Linked DNA regions of Homo sapiens: region 2 is linked to region 1. Evidence: fine-mapped expression QTL. A gene starts in region 1. The other region holds a variant in brackets. All regions are shown on one strand. Distances are between the middles of the regions.

Evidence for each region.
Region 2: its variant is fine-mapped to the expression of PLA2R1 in lung (TOPMed, PIP 0.98).

Annotation. Positions count from the first base shown.
Region 1 is chr2:160,060,879-160,063,784 of GRCh38, forward strand. PLA2R1 (phospholipase A2 receptor 1) reads right to left here and starts at 1,737. Exons shown (of 30, transcript NM_007366.5): 1 at 1,417-1,737. The coding sequence starts at 1,525.
Region 2 is chr2:160,003,689-160,006,594 of GRCh38, forward strand. PLA2R1 (phospholipase A2 receptor 1) reads right to left here. Exons shown (of 30, transcript NM_007366.5): 11 at 1,964-2,133. Among named protein-coding and RNA genes, the nearest start is that of PLA2R1, 57 kb to the right of the region's middle. The variant G/A (reference allele first, on the strand shown) is at 1,380.

The DNA of each region.
Region 1 (2,906 bases):
TAGTGGGAAGGAATCATACATACTACAGGATCAGATGTGCATCCACAGGAGCAATTTTCTGAATTGACCAAGAAGGTAAGAGCATCTCTGACTTTGGTCACTTTAGAATAAGAATGGTCTTGTTCTACCTGCCCCTGATTAAGCCTCCAGGGAGCTTAGGAAACACAGTCTAGAAAAGACTACCTCAAAAATGTAGACATATTCTACTGTGGAGGAAAAAATGTGAACGCAGATATTGATCACATCTTGTGTTACCCCTTCTCTCCAAACTTATCTCCAAAGGCAGAGAGGATGGAGGCTGTCTGGAGGCTCCTCCTGGCATATTTAACTCCCTCCTGTCCCCCTCCTACTTGCATATATGGACTTCTGCACTTAGGCGCAGGCTTCTCTGCCTGAGGTGGCCCATTCTCAAATGCGGGCCCCTGCAGGCCAGAAATCTCTCCTCCCTCTCTTTACACAACCTTCTGAGTCTCATGTGTAGTAGGTGCTCAATAAGTGTTTGCTGAATTGAACCCCGTTTTTCCACTGAGAGAGACTAAGGCATAAAGGCTTCAGATCACGCAGTTCATGGAGCCACTGGGGCTTCTCTCCCTCACCTGGCCTGATGTTTTCAGGCGGGGTGCGGTGGGTCAGGCCTGTAATCCCAGAACTTTGGGAGGACGAGGTGGGCGGATCACTTGGGCCCAGGAGTTGGAGACCAGCCTGGGCAACATGGTGAAACTCCGTCTCCACCAAAAATACAAAAATTTTGCTGGGCGTGCGGGCGCACACCTGTGGTCCCAGCTACTCGGGAGGCTGAGGTGGGAGGATCGCTTGACCCCGGGAGGCGGAGGCTGCAGTGAGCCGAGATCCCGCCATTACACTACAGCCTGGGCGACAGAGCAAGACCCTGTCTCAAAAAACAAACAAACAAAAAAAGTTTTCCTTAAGGAAGGGATGGACTGGGGAGGCCTGGCTTGGGGGTCACTCCTAGGTGGCGACGCAGACCCTGAGCGCTTGCTTTGCAAGGGGACGAACTGAGCCATCTTTTTGCTATCATTTATCCGTCCCAAATAAGCAGCTCTCAGAAAGTTTCCGTTTTGAAACTTCTCCGACACTCCTATCCCGGGCTGGCTCCGGGCGCCAGAGCCGAGAGGAGTTACCTGCGAGACCAAGCCCCCCCGCCCCCGCCGCCCGACCCCCGCAGGAGCCAGGAGGGTGCCGGGCCGCGCAAGTGGGGTGCTGGGCCTAGACAAGAGGCTGCAGGACACCACCCGCTCCCCCCATGCTCAGGACTGCTGACACACGAACCCCTACAAACGCGGCCGCCCTTGCCCGCCAGCTTGGCCCCTAGCTTCGCCCCTTCTTCCTCTCCTTCGACCACCCCGACCCCCCTCCCCAACGTACCGATCCAGTCCCCGACCCTGGGAGACTCACCCTGCCACTCCAGGAGCCGCTCGGGGGTAAGCGCCGCCGCCACACCCTCGGCGCAGCCCCGCGGCGCCCCCAGCAGCAGCAGCAGCAGCAGCGACGGCGACAGCAGCATCGCTAACCACTGGGCTCTCCGGGAGCCCCTTGTCCCGGGAGCCCCTTATCCCGGGAGCCCAGAGCCGCGTCCCAAGCACCCGGCCCCGCCGCGCGGAAGCGGATCCGTAGCCTCCTCCGCGCCCCACCCCCTCCGGGGGCCTTGCCAGCCCAGAGCCCTGGAGACCCACTCCGCCACCGCTGTCTCCACAGTGAACCGACACTCGGGGCTCTGGGCTGGGATGCGGGAAAGTCGCGGAGGTTTTCCTCGCCCCACCCACTGCGGCTTGGGGAAGGAGGAGGAGGAGGGGTGGGCCATCTGCCCATCCCAGAAATTCCTGCCTTTGGGGTGGGGACAGGCGGAGTGAGGCTGCTCGGGTCACACTCTCCGCTCCTCTAGCTTGCAGCCCTGCTCTCTCCTTTCTGGGGGAGGCCGAAGAGGAGTTGTGGGTGAGCGATTTGAGAATCTCCGGGACAAGGAGCCTGACATCCGGGTTTGCAAACCACCTGGATTCTGGTAAACACCGCGGATTTGCAGCGGGCAGCCTAGAGTGAACCCAGCTGCTCCGCGACGCAGGCGCTTTGGGAGGGTCCTGGACTCCTTTGACTTGTGGAGCACTGGAGACACCTGAGGGGCCACGCCGTGGTCTCCACCTTCCTTGCCCCAGAGTAACCCGGAGATTCTTCTATTCAGCTCCTTCGGTTTTGAAATAACCTCCTCTTTCCAACTCCTTTGATCCCCCAAGCCCCGCAAAGTAGCCGGGGTCCCTATTATCCCATTTTTACAGCTGAGAAACCCTGCCCAGAAAGTCGAAGTGCTTTGCTCTAGGTTACTTCCTAATCCAGCAAAAGTTACTCTCTAGCAAGTAGGACAGCCCTGGCTAGAATGTAGTCGTTCTAACTGTCCTCCTTCAAATAACCAGCAGAACACTGGAAGCGTTTAATATTCTGAGAACAGGCTCATATAAGACCTTTCCTCAGCGGGACCTTGACATTAGTCATTAAAACATAAGAGAGGGGGAGGGGAGGGGCAGAAAGCAGAGCCTGGAAGGAAATGCCTAGCAGGGAGCAAGATTGAAGGTCAGAGCCAAATGGGGAAGAAGGGAAAGTGGTTGCCTTGGCCATGGCCTTAACAAAAGGTGCTCAGTCCTGCAGGAACCTCAGAGAGCCTCAGAACTGTCTGTCGAGGACAAAAGGGGCAAGCGTTTATCCATGGACTTTATCCTTCCCTGTTGGTAAGGGAGATCCTAGGGTTATTAACTCCTCTGCACTGTTCTACAGCAGTGGTGAGTTTCAGTCATGGTCCCATACCTTGTCTCTTAGAAGCCCTGGGTGCATAGCATGGCAAAAGGTGAGGCGCTGTCAGGTTGTTTCTCAGAGGGTTGGGGGGTGGGGGACAGCCG
Region 2 (2,906 bases), 57 kb before region 1:
GATGAACTTGTAAACTGATAATGCCTCAGTAAGATGTACACTTTTAGGCCAACATGCTCATAGTTATGCACAGCGACATCAACATAGAGATATTTGTTGTAACACTTTTGTAGCAGAAATGAAAATGAATTTCACCCAATGTCCTTCAACAGGGTCATGGCAAAGCAAATTATGAGTCCTACATACTATGAAATTCTATGTAGCTGTTTCAAATGTCGACTAATAAATATTGATGTGGAAAGTTCTCTAAGACAGATTGCTAAGTGAAAAAAATCAAATAACAGAAACATGCAATCCTTATATCCATTTAAAAAGTACATATGCATAAATGTATTTAAATGCAATGCATAGACAAACACCAGCAGGATCATACCAAACAGTTAACAGTGGTTGTTTCTGAAAAGGGAAATGTATTGATGTTGGGAAGGTGAAGAGAAAGATGTAACGGAGTACTTCCACATTTTACTTAGCACACTTCTCTATAATTAGAGCATCTACATAATTTACCATCCAAGCCAGAAAAATTTGGAGTAAAAATACCTGCTGTTAATTGCTCTGGGACACCAGACATAAATTAGAACTGTTCTGGGCAAATGAGGTATATGGTCACATTATCTATAGTAAGAATATATTCATGATTTCATCGTTGAATTTTAAAAATCGGTGGAGCTTTGCCAACCACTGTCTAGAGTTGGGATTAGCAAACCACCTTGGACTGGACTTTTGTAATTATGAGAAACAAGGCTTGTGTGGCCACTTTTATATTTTAGTGTGAGGCCACACTAAAGGGGAGATATACCTCCCCCTGTGGCTTAGCAAACACTTTCCTTACCTTGGTATATAGAGCTCTGAGGATGGAATAGACCAATTTGTATAAAGAGCTCCGGGCCTTCAGGGAGGGAAGAGCCTGGGGCCCCTAAGCCATTTCCTCTAGATACAAACTTAGTAACTCTTTGCTGTTGTCTCTGGCACAGCCCTGATGGAGATACAGGCAAGCAAGAACTCACCCTGAAGTAGAAGGGCTGTTGGGTCTAGGCTGTCAACCTCAGCTTAATACAAGGGCCTGAAGCTTGTTCCACAGAGACTGGTTCTAGTGTAGGCTGTGGCGGAAGACATCAGCTTCTCTGGTACTGACCAACCTGGCACAGTTTCATGCCTTGGGATTCAGAGCTGAACACCTGAGGATGAACTAGTAGAGCTGTTAACGCTGGAATCCTGGCTAAGGTACCCCAGGCAGTGACTGTGAACTGATTGGATGTACCCATATGTGCCCATCCACCGTACTTTGAAGTTTAACTGACCATTCTGAACTGAGTAAGCACTTGAGATTCTTAGACAGTGGGGGGTGCAGGTGGGGAGAAAGACATTAGGAGGGAGAA[G/A]CTGGACTTGCTGCTAATAAAGGCAGTGGTGGTCCTGAGCGATGAATTTATACCTTTAACATGTCAAATGACTCATACGGATTATACTTTTAAAAATGACCATTGGGCCAGGCAATTTGGCTCATGTCTATAATCCCAGCACTTTGGGAGGCCAAGGTGGGAGGATTGCTTGAGCCCAGGAGTTCAATATCAGTCTGTCTCTACAGAAAATACAAAAATTAGCTGGGTGTGGTGGCGCATGCCTGTGGTCCCAGCTACTGGGGAGGCTGAGGTGGGAGAATCACTTGAGCCCAGGAGGTCAAGGCTGCAGTGAACCGAGATTGCACCACTGCACTCCAGGCTGGGTGACAGAGCGAGACCTCGTCTCAAAACAAACAAACAAACAAACAAACAAACAAACAAATAAAATAAATAAAAACAAAGATCAGCCATATGTCACCCCCTGTTAACCTGTGTTGATCCTTGTAATTGATTTAGGCATTAAGAAAACATTAAGAAAGAATCAAAGGAGGTGGGCCAAGGGGTGGAAGGAATTTGGAGTAAAGAAAACAGGGAGGGTTGGTGATGCAGCACACTCTACTCACGCGGCTGGTGTGTGTTCCAGTGTGTGTACTGCACCGGCTCGGGTTTCTGCCCTACTGGCTTCCAAGTGTATTCTCCCGTATCATTTTGGTCCTGAAGAGCTATCCAAAAATAACTGTCCTTCATTTTTACCACACTACTGATCAAACTGGTAATAAAAGCCTGTTCAAACCTTAAAAGGGGAAAAAAGAAGTGGTTACATTAAGTTTCTGGGCAATAAAAAAATGTCATTAAAGCATAATGAAGTGCACAGAATGGCCCCAGAGTAAGCATTTCTCATCAATTCTTTAGAACATGGAACAGGAAAACACCCAAAGACCCTGAACATTACTAATAAATGCCGAATGTCAGTGCAATTCCCAGAACTATATGAGTGAGCAGAATCTGACTCTTGCATATGGGGCTTAATTCTTGCACAGAATAGAGAGTCCAGCTCCAGTTTCAAAGCATAGGTGGTAAAGTTCACATGGCCAGCAATGCATTTCTTGGAGTACGATGTGGCCTATTTTGTAATTAGGCCACACACCACACACACCATGCCACAATATGCACGGGGTAAAGGTGGGCAGGAGGGAGGAGGAAAGATATTATGCTTTTCTGAATGAGCATTTACTAATACAGAGTTCACACACACCCACCTACCTCACTTGCCTGGTGAGAAAGAAACAGAAATTAAAGTAGCAATTTTATGTCTCCCAAATCAGTGTGTTCATAGGCAGAGGTAGGTCTCAGCTTATTCAAATGTGTTTAAATCTGCATGTTCACTGAAGAAAAATGTGAAAGCCTAGGAACTAATCTAAGGCCGTACATCCACTAATATACTTCCCAAACAGCTGAATGAATTACTGTTCAATGATTGGTGGCAGTGCCCCCTTTCCAGTATGAATGCATCAAAAGCAGAATATAGAAGACTCACATACATGCTTCCACATGCACACCTACTAA